Linked DNA regions of Homo sapiens: region 1 is linked to region 2. The links come from fine-mapping of genetic effects on gene expression. A gene starts in region 2. The other region holds a variant in brackets. All regions are shown on one strand. Distances are from middle to middle.

Region 1 (5,369 bases), 530 kb before region 2:
CCTATAGTTTTCTATTTTTGTTGTGTCCTTGCCAGATTTTTGTTCTAGGATGATAATGGTTTAGTAGAAGAGTTAGGAAGGAGTTCCTCCTCCTTGATATTTTGGAATAGTTTTGGTAAGATTGGTCGCAGCTCTTCTTTGTACATCTGTTAGAATTCGGCTGTGAATCTGCCTGGTCCAGGGCTTTTTTTGCTTGGTAGGTTTTTTATTACTGATTCAATTTTTAAACTTCATATTGGTCTGTTCAGGACTCCAGTTTCTTCCTGATTCAATCTTGGGAGATTCTTTTCAAAAATTATTTATTTCCTTTAGTTTGTGCACAGAAACTAAAGAGCTTCTGCACGGCAAAAGAAACTACCATCAGAGTGAACAGGCAACCTACAGAATGGGAGAACATTTTTGCAGTCTACCCATCTGACAAAGGACTAATATCCAGAATCTACAAATAACTTAAACAAATTTACAAGAAAAAACACCATCAAAAAGTGGGCAAAGAATATGGACAGACACTTCTCAAAGGAAGACATTTATGCAGCCAACAGACACATGAAAAAATGTTCATCATCACTGGTCATCAGAGAAATGCAAATCAAAACCACAATGAGATACCATCTCACACCAGTTAGAATAGCAATCATTAAAAAGTCAGGAAACAACAGATACTGGAGAGGATGTGGAGAAATAGGAATGCTTTTACACTGTTGGTGGGAGTGTAAACTAGTTCAACCATTGTGGAAGACAGTGTGGTGATTCTTCAAGGATCTAGAACTAGAAATACCATTTGATCCAGTAATCCCATTACTGGGTGTATACCCAAAGGATTATAAATCATGCTGCTATAAAGACACATGCACACGTATGTTTATTGCAGCACTATTCACAATAGCAAAAACTTGTAACCAACCCAAATGTCCATCAATGATAGACTGAATTAAGAATATGTGGCACATATATACCATGGAATACTATGCAGCCATAAAAAAGGATGGGTTCATGTCCTTTGCAGAGACATGGATGCAGCTGGAAACCATAATTCTGAGCAAACTGTCACGAGGACAGAAAACCAAACACCACATGTTCTCACTCATAGGTGGGAACTGAACAATGAGAACACTTGGACACAGGACGGGGAACATCACACTCTGGGGCCTGTTGTGGGATGGGGGTCAGGGGGAAGGATAGCATTAGGAGAAATACCTAATGTAAATGACGAGTTGATGGGTGCAGCATACCAACACGACACATATATAAATATGTATCAAACCTGCACGTTGTGCACATGTACCCTGTAACTTAAAATATAATAATAATAATAATAATAATAATAATAAAAATAAAATGTTTAGTATAGGCTCCCAGTCTCTTCTGGCTTGTAGGGTTTCAGCTGAGACGTCTGCTGTTGCCCTGATGGGGATCCCTTTGTAGGTGACCTGCACTTTCTCTTTATCTGCCTTTAACATTCTTTCTTTTATTCAAACCTTGGAAAATCTGACAGTTATGTGTCTTGGGGATGATCTTCTTATGTAGAATCTTGCAAGAGTTCTCTGTATTTCCTGAATTTGACTGTTGGTTTCTCTAGCAAGGTTGGGGAAGTTTTCATGGATGATATCCTGAAATATATTTTCCAGGTCGTTTGCTTTCTCCCCCTCCCTTTCAGGGATGCCAATGATTCATAGATTTGGCCTCTTTTTTACATAATTTTATACTTCTCAGAGGTTTTGTTCATTTCTTTTTATTCTATTTTTCTTTATTTTTCTCTGTCTTATTTTAGAGAGCCAGTATTCAAGTTCTGAGATTCTTTCCTTAGCTTGGTTATTCTCATGTTAATACTTGTGATTACACTGTGAAATTCTTGTATTGTGTTATTCAGCTCTGTCAGACCCGTTAGGTTCTTTTTTATATTGGCTATTTTGTCCTTTAGCTCCTGTATCACTTTATTGTGGTTCTTATTTTCCTTGGGTTTCATATTGTCATCCTCCTGACTCTCGATTATTTTTGTTTCTACTTGTATTCTGAATTCTGAATTCTATTTCTGTCATTCCGGCTAGTTCAGCCTGGTCAAGAACTCTTGTTGGAGAACTGGTATGGTTTTTTTTTTTTTTTTTTTTTTTTGAGACGGAATCTGACTCTGTCGCCAGGCTGGAGTACAGTGGCATGAACTTGGCTCACTGCAGCCTCTGCCTCCCAGGTTTAAGCGATTCTCTCCTGCCTCAGCCTCCCAAGTAGCTGGGACTACAGGCACATGCCACCATGCCCAGCTAATTTTTGTATTTTTAGTAGAGACTGGGTTTCACGGTGTTGGCCAGGATGGTCTCAATCTCTTGACCTCGTGATCCACCCCCCTCGGCCTCCCAAAGTGCTGGGATTACAGGTGTGAGCCACTGCGCCCGGCCCGGTGTGGTTTTTTTGTAGGACATATGACACTCTGGCCAGAGTTCTTACATTGATTTTTTCTCATCTCTGCATGTGGGTGTTCCTTTAACTACAGTGTAGGTTGAGTACAGTCAGTTGACTTTTCTGGATGTTTTCACCAAGCTGAGGCTTTGTGTGGGGGTTTTATTTGAAGCTGACTTCTTGTCTCTAGTTTCAGAGGGAGTTATGTTAGTGAGGTATTTTTGGTGTTGAAGTTTTGGGATATAATCCAGAAGGCGACACTTAGGCTCATTGGTCAGTTGGTAGACTCTTGCTCAGTTGTGTGGCTCCTCTGTGTTTCCTCATAGTTGCAGCAATGTTCCCTCTCAATGCTGTGGAAGTGTGGGTTTCTCTCTTTCTTGAGTGCTGGCTGTAATTTATGACTTTGTACTTCTTGGCTGCCCACTGCAGCTCTGTGCC[G/A]AGTGTTTATGTTTCTTTCCCAGCTTAGAGGCAGCAGAGGAAGAGATCTTGGTACTGGTTGTGGCCAAGGGTCATTTGGTTGACTCTTGGGGACCCCAACCCAGAGAGATGCAGGTCAGAATTTGCTCAGTGCAGTCAGTCCATGATGGAGGGTTTGTACTGTGGGCCCAAGTCAGGGGTTCCTTGTCTGGTGATGAGCCATGGGGGTTGTATGGGACCTGCAGGAGACAGAATGGCCTGCTCTTTTTGGGTTGACTGCAGCTTGTTGGAGGTGTGGATAAGGCCCTTAGGGTCTTTTCTTCCTCTTTTCTGAGGATAGGAAGGGCACTTCCATTGCAGAAGCAGTGCCAGAGAGGCTTTCAGATGCCCCTGGAGGCTCTGCTTAGGGAGTTGCTGAGTTGGTACTGGCTTGATAGTTCTGGCTCTATAGTTGATAGTTGAGGCTTAGGCCTGGAGGACTTACCCAGTGAGGAGATATGGGAACAGGTACTCATACAATAATCTGGCCACTTTTCCAAAGGGCTGCTACTGTATGCTTGGGGTATACTCAACTGGCTGCTGGCCCAAAGCCACTTGTAGGAGTTGGCTGGAGACCACGGTTGAGAGGTCCTGTTTGGTGAGGAGTAATGGGTCAGGACCTACTTAAAAAAGCAGTCAGGCCATGTTTTGGTAGAGCAGATGTGCTGTGCTTGGGGTCCTGTTCAGTCCCTGCTCACTTCAGAGACTCCAAAGCCCAAAGTCTGGAATGGCCAAGTCGCCCAAACAGCAAAGATGGCAGCCTGCCCCTCCCCCTGGGAGCTCCTTCTTAGGGAGGTTTAGTGCCACTACTTGTAGCTGGCTGGAATTCCAAGCCAGTGGGTCTTATCTTCTGAGGTGCCATGGAAGTGGGGCCTGCAGGCCGTTGCTGCTGAGCTTTCTGGATTCAGTCTCTTTCCTAGGGGTACATACAGCAGTCTAACCTTCCACTTTGCTGTAGCTCTAGTTACTTTTGCTGGAAGCCCAAGTATCTAGGGCTCCAGGGTCTCCATGCATGCCTGAGTGGCTGCTCTGCCGAGACTCTACGTAGCTCAGACTGAAGACTGAAAGTCCTGGTTTAGTGGGATCTCCTGATCCGAGGGTTGCAAACATCTGTGGGAGAAGCATGGTTTTCCAGGGTTGCTCATTCACTCACCACTTTGCTGGGTGGTGGAGGATCTCCTGGCTCTATGTTGCTCCCAGGTGGGTCGTTGTCCTGTCTTGCTTTTCTTTGTTCTCTGTGGGTCAAGTTGTTTCCTTGATTAATCCCAATGTGAGTACCTGGATGTTTCAGTTGAAGGTGTTGTATTTACTCACCCCTTTTGTTCCTGTGAGAGCCACATACACTAGCTTCTTCTAGTCAGCCATCTTTGCTACTCCCCAATGGTCAATTTTTAAGAATGTCCCATGCGCAGATGAGAAAAAGGTATATTCTGTGGTAGTTGCTTGGAGTATTCTGTAGATGTCTATTAGGTCATTTGGTGAAGAGTTTAATTTAAGTCCACAGTTTCTTTTTTCTCTGCCTCAGTGATGTGTCTAGTTCTGTCTGTGGGTATTGAAATTCTCCACTATTGCTGTATGGCTCTCTGTCTCTTTTTGTAATTTTGGTAGTATATGTTTTATATCCTGGGTGGTATGATATTGGGTGTGTATATATTTGAGATAGTTAAATCTTCTTTTGAATTGAACCGCTTTATCATTGCATGATGGCCTTCTTTGTCTTTTTTTTCCTGTTGCTGGTCTTAAGTCTGTTTTATCTCATAGAATAAGAGCAACCCCTGCTCTCTCTTTTTTTTTTTTTGCTTTGCATTTGTGTGATCTTTATCCCTTTATGTTGAGCCTTTGGGTGTCATTACATATGAGATGGCAGCAGAAGGTTGGGTCGTTTTTTTTTTTTTTTTAAATACAAATTGCCACTCTGTGTCTTTTAAATGTGCCATTTCATTTATTTATGTTCAAGGTTGATACTGCTATGTAAGGTTTTGTCCTTGTGATAGTATTGTCAGCTAGTTGCTTTGCCGTCTCAATTGTATAATTGCTTCATATGATACGTGAGCTTTATACTTACATGCACTTTTATGGTAGCAGGTATCTTTCATTTTCATCTTTAGAACTCCTTTGAGCATTTCTTGCGAGATTGATTTGGTGGTGATTATTTCTTTTAGCAGTTGCTTGTCTGGATGTGCATAATTGTTTGGCTTAGTTCCTGGGTGCTTTCAGGGGGCCAAAGCTCTGTATGTGTTCCCTAGTTGTGGATACCTTCTGTGTGGCAGCTTTCTCAGATACTGTTTGTTGTAGCCATGTATTGGATGAATTAGCTTACATATATCGTTCAGGGCAGAGGATAGGGAGAACTCAGGAAACTTATCTAGCACCAAGCCCTTCGGGCAGCATATCTTTTATTTGGTGGTACAGTTCAGGCCGAAATCCAGAAGGTGGTGCTTAAGAGTAAGAGCTGGTTCTCCCTTAGGTAGGCTGATGGTAAGTGGAAGCACCTGCCTTGATGTGGGGTTGGTGGAAAG
Region 2 (5,369 bases):
GTCTGACTACATCCGGAAGATAAATGAACTGATGCCTAAATATGCCCCCAAGGCAGCCAGTGCACGGACCGATTTGTAGTCTGCTCAATCTCTGTTGCACCTGAGGGGGAAAAAACAGTTCAACTGCTTACTCCCAAAACAGCCTTTTTGTAATTTATTTTTTAAGTGGGCTCCTGACAATACTGTATCAGATGTGAAGCCTGGAGCTTTCCTGATGATGCTGGCCCTACAGTACCCCCATGAGGGGATTCCCTTCCTTCTGTTGCTGGTGTACTCTAGGACTTCAAAGTGTGTCTGGGATTTTTTTATTAAAGAAAAAAAATTTCTAGCTGTCCTTGCAGAATTATAGTGAATACCAAAATGGGGTTTTGCCCCAGGAGGCTCCTACCAGTTTCTGCTTTCCAGTTGCAGAGTTTGGGGGGTTATTCATTCCCATTTATCTCTCAACCCACCAGTGCTGAAAATACCAGAGCAGGACATAGGGGCTGGGGCCAGCTGATGTGTGTGGGTGTGTACCACTAGAGGGCAGCAGGCACTCAGCAGAAAGGAGGTGGCGGGGGCGGGGGGTGCTGCGCTTGATACCCTGCCCCTTGATACAGTATCTGTCTTACCCGCCCAAGAGAGCTGGAGGCCACAGCTCTAGGAGGAGTGAGTCTGGGATACATTGGAGGGCCTTATATTGTGGCTCAGTACAAGCAAGACAGGGTGTCTGGAGTGTGGTTTTTCCACAAGGATATCTTCAATCAGTGCACGTCAGCACTGACATCTCTATAAAGATGCTGTTGGCCTGGCCACCTACTTGCTCTTTTGTCCATTCCAAGCCTCTGATGTCTGTTCCAGTTTTTGCAAGTCTGGCAGGAGTCAGCTTATACAAAGAGGGAGTGGGAAGCTGCCTTTTGCCTTTGTTTACCCTAGATTAGTCTAACAGTTGAGGTCCAGGGTTTTGCTGGAGTCTGCTTCTTAAGCCACTCTCTGTGGCACTGGTGCTTAGGAAACCCAGTTGTTAGTGTGAGCTGTGGCTCAATGAAGACACCTGTAGAAACCACCTGAAAGGACGGACTAAGAACCAGTGCTTTCCAAGTAATTGGTCTTGCCTCAGATCACTTCACTTGTGTCTCCTAAGCTCAGTTTGCCTGTAGGAGGCCTTGCTGCTGTGGAACCCATTGCTTTCTTCCAAGACCTTTCCCCCTGCACCTGCCTGAGCTACTCCAGGAGCTGCTTTCTCTTTGTGCGAAGAGGGCATGACTTGGTCTGCTCTTCCCCATCGCAAGGATTCTGTGCCAGAAATTGGGTCAGGTTCTACCATGGCTCCAGCAACTGTCCTTGGAGAATGAAAGCTTCCTCAATGGGCTTGAGCACCTGGGCACCCTTTCCCTCACCTCACCTGGGGAGAAGAGGTCGTCCTGAAGGTGATGAACAGGAGGGTACTGGCCAGCGAGGGGTCAGCGTGGCAAGGTGTGATAACTGCTGGCACTATCTGTGCATATGGCCTCTTCATCCTTGGCTCTTACGGCCCTACCTTTCCAGCCTGCTATCTGCCCACAGAAGAGGGTGGGACCCAAGAGTGGCGTTAAAGAGTCTATTCCAACTCCATCAACTGCAACTGCAGGCTTGTCTCTGCTTTCGGTTATTACCTGCGTGACAGCAATTGTCCTCACGGCCTTTTCGGGGACTGCTGCAGGTGAACCTGCACGTGGAGAATGCGCAGAATGTGGGCCTTGGGTCCTGGGCAGGGTCTAAGGATAGGCATGCATTAGTCCTTGGCGCCGTCAACGCCGGATCCCAGGCAGGAGATGCCAACGAGGGTGATGTGGGGTTTGCTCAAGCCTAGTCCTAGGACTGAGGGGATACTACATAAAGAGACCACTGACTGGGTCAATGCCCCAGATCCCAACGGCCATGGAAGCTGCCACTCCTGCTCCAATCAGCGCGGGCTCCAGTGCCTGCAAGAGGAGATAGCTGGACCCAGAGCGGCAAAGCACGGCTGGGAGCACAAAGCGTTAGGTCGTCTCGCCGGCCTCTCAGGGTTCACTACACTCCGCGTAGCCTCAAGCATCGGCCATGCGGGCCGCGCGGTGGCGCCAGAGCGCGCGGCCGGTCCCACTCACCCAGCACTCACAGGGTCACCTGGCACTGGGCGACGCAGCGCGATGAGGCAGGCCCGGCGCGGGTCTTGCTCCGCCCGCCGCAGAGTCACGTGGCAGGACGGCGCACCTTGATAACGCAATGCCCGGCCCCTCGGCGCCGCTCCCGCCCCGCCCCGCCGCCACCGCCGCGCCGAGTCCTTTTGTCCAAGATGGCGGCGCCGGGGGCGCTGCCTCCTCGGCCGCCGCCTCCGCCGCCGCCGCTGTGAGAAACCTACGGGCCGCCCGCCCGCCGCGCCAGCGCCATGAAGCGGCAGAGCGAGCGAGACTCTAGCCCGAGCGGGCGCGGCTCGTCATCGTCCGCCAAGCGTCCGCGGGAGCGCGAACGGGAGGCGGAGGCGGGCGGGCGGCGGGCGGCGCACAAGGCCTCTGGCGGCGCCAAGCACCCGGTTCCAGCGCGGGCCCGCGACAAACCCCGCGGCAGCGGAAGCGGCGGGGGCGGGCATCGCGACGGCCGCGGCACCGGGGACGCGAATCACCGCGCGAGTAGCGGGCGCTCCTCGGGCTCCGGCGCTGGCGGCGGGGGACGCGGCGGCAAGGCCTCGGGGGACCCGGGCGCCTCCGGCATGTCGCCCCGCGCGTCTCCTCTGCCGCCGCCTCCGCCACCGCCTGGGGCCGAGCCCGCGTGTCCCGGCTCATCCGCGGCCGCGCCTGAGTACAAGACGTTGCTCATCAGCAGCTTGAGCCCCGCGCTGCCCGCCGAGCACCTCGAGGACCGGCTCTTCCACCAGTTCAAGCGCTTCGGCGAGATCAGCCTCCGCCTGTCGCACACGCCTGAGCTGGGCCGTGTGGCCTACGTGAATTTCCGGCACCCACAGGACGCACGCGAGGCCCGCCAGCACGCCCTGGCCCGGCAGCTGCTGCTCTACGACCGCCCGCTCAAGGTAGAGCCCGTGTACCTGCGTGGCGGCGGCGGGAGCAGTCGGCGAAGTAGCAGCAGCAGCGCCGCCGCTTCCACGCCTCCCCCAGGGCCGCCCGCGCCCGCCGACCCGCTCGGCTACCTCCCGCTACACGGAGGCTACCAGTACAAGCAGCGCTCGCTGTCCCCCGTCGCTGCCCCGCCCCTGCGGGAGCCCCGTGCCCGTCACGCCGCCGCAGCCTTCGCCCTGGATGCCGCTGCTGCCGCCGCCGTGGGACTGTCCCGGGAGCGGGCCCTGGACTACTACGGGCTGTACGACGACCGTGGGCGCCCCTATGGCTACCCAGCTGTGTGTGAGGAGGACCTGATGCCCGAGGATGACCAGCGGGCCACGCGCAACCTCTTCATTGGTAACCTGGACCACAGCGTATCTGAGGTGGAGCTGCGAAGGGCCTTCGAGAAATATGGCATCATCGAGGAGGTGGTCATCAAGAGGCCTGCCCGTGGCCAGGGCGGTGCCTATGCCTTCCTCAAGTTCCAGAACCTGGACATGGCCCATAGGGCTAAGGTGGCCATGTCGGGCCGAGTGATTGGTCGCAACCCCATTAAGATAGGCTATGGCAAGGCCAACCCCACCACTCGTCTCTGGGTGGGTGGCCTGGGACCTAACACGTCACTGGCGGCTCTGGCCCGAGAGTTTGACCGCTTTGGGAGCATTCGGACCATTGATCACGTCAAAGGAGATAGCTTTGCCTATATTCAGTACGAGAGCTTGGACGCAGCCCAGGCCGCCTGTGCTAAAATGAGGGGTTTTCCCTTGGGTGGACCAGACCGCAGGCTCCGCGTGGATTTTGCCAAAGCAGAGGAGACTCGGTACCCCCAGCAGTACCAGCCCTCGCCACTCCCTGTGCATTATGAGCTGCTCACAGATGGATACACCCGGCACCGCAACCTGGACGCCGACCTGGTGCGGGACAGGACGCCCCCACACCTTCTGTACTCAGACCGAGACCGGACTTTTTTGGAAGGGGACTGGACCAGCCCCAGTAAAAGCTCTGACCGCCGAAACAGCCTTGAGGGCTACAGTCGCTCAGTGCGCAGCCGGAGTGGTGAGCGTTGGGGGGCAGATGGAGACCGTGGTTTGCCCAAGCCCTGGGAAGAGAGGCGGAAACGGAGAAGCCTTTCCAGTGACCGTGGGAGGACAACCCATTCACCATATGAGGAACGGAGTAGGACCAAGGGCAGTGGGCAGCAGTCAGAGCGGGGCTCCGACCGCACCCCTGAGCGCAGCCGCAAGGAGAACCACTCCAGTGAAGGGACCAAGGAGTCCAGCAGCAACTCCCTCAGCAACAGCAGACATGGGGCTGAGGAACGGGGCCACCACCACCACCACCACGAGGCTGCAGACTCTTCCCACGGGAAGAAGGCAAGAGACAGCGAGCGCAATCACCGGACCACAGAGGCCGAGCCCAAGCCTCTGGAAGAGCCAAAACACGAGACCAAAAAGCTGAAGAATCTTTCAGAGTACGCTCAGACACTACAGCTGGGTTGGAATGGGCTTCTGGTGTTGAAAAACAGCTGCTTCCCCACGTCTATGCATATCCTAGAGGGGGACCAGGGGGTGATCAGCAGTCTCCTCAAAGACCACACTTCTGGGAGCAAGCTGACCCAGCTGAAGATCGCCCAGCGCCTTCGACTGGACCAGCCCAAGCTTGACGAGGTCACACGACGCATCAAGCAGGGGAGCCCCAACGGCTATGCGGTCCTCTTAGCCACCCAGGCAACCCCCAGTGGGCTTGGCACTGAGGGGATGCCCACAGTAGAGCCCGGTCTGCAGAGGCGGCTTCTCAGGAACCTGGTCTCCTACTTGAAACAGAAGCAGGCCGCAGGGGTGATCAGCTTGCCAGTGGGGGGGTCCAAGGGCAGAGACGGCACAGGCATGCTCTACGCCTTCCCACCCTGCGACTTTTCCCAGCAGTACCTCCAGTCAGCACTAAGGACATTGGGCAAGCTAGAAGAAGAACACATGGTGATAGTCATCGTCAGAGACACTGCCTAGCCCAAGCCTGTCTTTCCCAGCGTCATGTTTGTGTCACAAAAGCAGTTATTTTAAAATCTGATCCCCTCTCTACCCTACCACTTTGGTTTGAATTATCTCCTGGGTTATTTTGGTTCATTTGGGTGGGGATCAAAGTCCTGTCCACCACCAAAACTAAGTTCTTAGATTTTGGGGGATTTTTTTTTTTAAACGATGAGAAGGGAATCCGGTTATGTTGATTTCTAGTGTACAAGATACTGTCTGCTGTGGTTCTGTATTTTTTTATTTTTTGACCAACTGTATGGAAAGTTGTCAGTAAAACCTTTGA

Direction of the effects. Alleles are on the strand shown, and positions count from the first base shown. SD is a standard deviation of normalised expression in the study named.
For the expression in whole blood of the gene that starts at base 2,275 in region 2, allele G in region 1 goes with a lower level than allele A (small effect, 0.18 SD a copy in Lepik 2017).

Evidence for each region. PIP is the estimated chance that this variant, and not a neighbour inherited with it, causes the effect.
Region 1: its variant is the best candidate, but not a certain one, in a credible set for the expression of RBM15B in whole blood (Lepik 2017, PIP 0.54).

The regions. Positions count from the first base shown.
Region 1 is chr3:50,857,123-50,862,491 of GRCh38, forward strand. The region is part of intron 3 of DOCK3 (dedicator of cytokinesis 3); the gene reads left to right. Among named protein-coding and RNA genes, the nearest start is that of MIR4787, 180 kb to the left of the region's middle. The variant G/A (reference allele first, on the strand shown) is at 2,833.
Region 2 is chr3:51,389,011-51,394,379 of GRCh38, forward strand. RBM15B (RNA binding motif protein 15B) reads left to right here and starts at 2,275. Exons shown (of 1, transcript NM_013286.5): 1 at 2,275-5,369. The coding sequence starts at 2,390. The coding sequence ends at 5,062. MANF (mesencephalic astrocyte derived neurotrophic factor) reads left to right here. Exons shown (of 4, transcript NM_006010.6): 4 at 1-387. The coding sequence ends at 79. RefSeq lists enhancers at 1,749-1,798, 3,784-4,289, 4,290-4,797 and silencers at 2,119-2,598, 2,639-2,718, 2,829-2,888.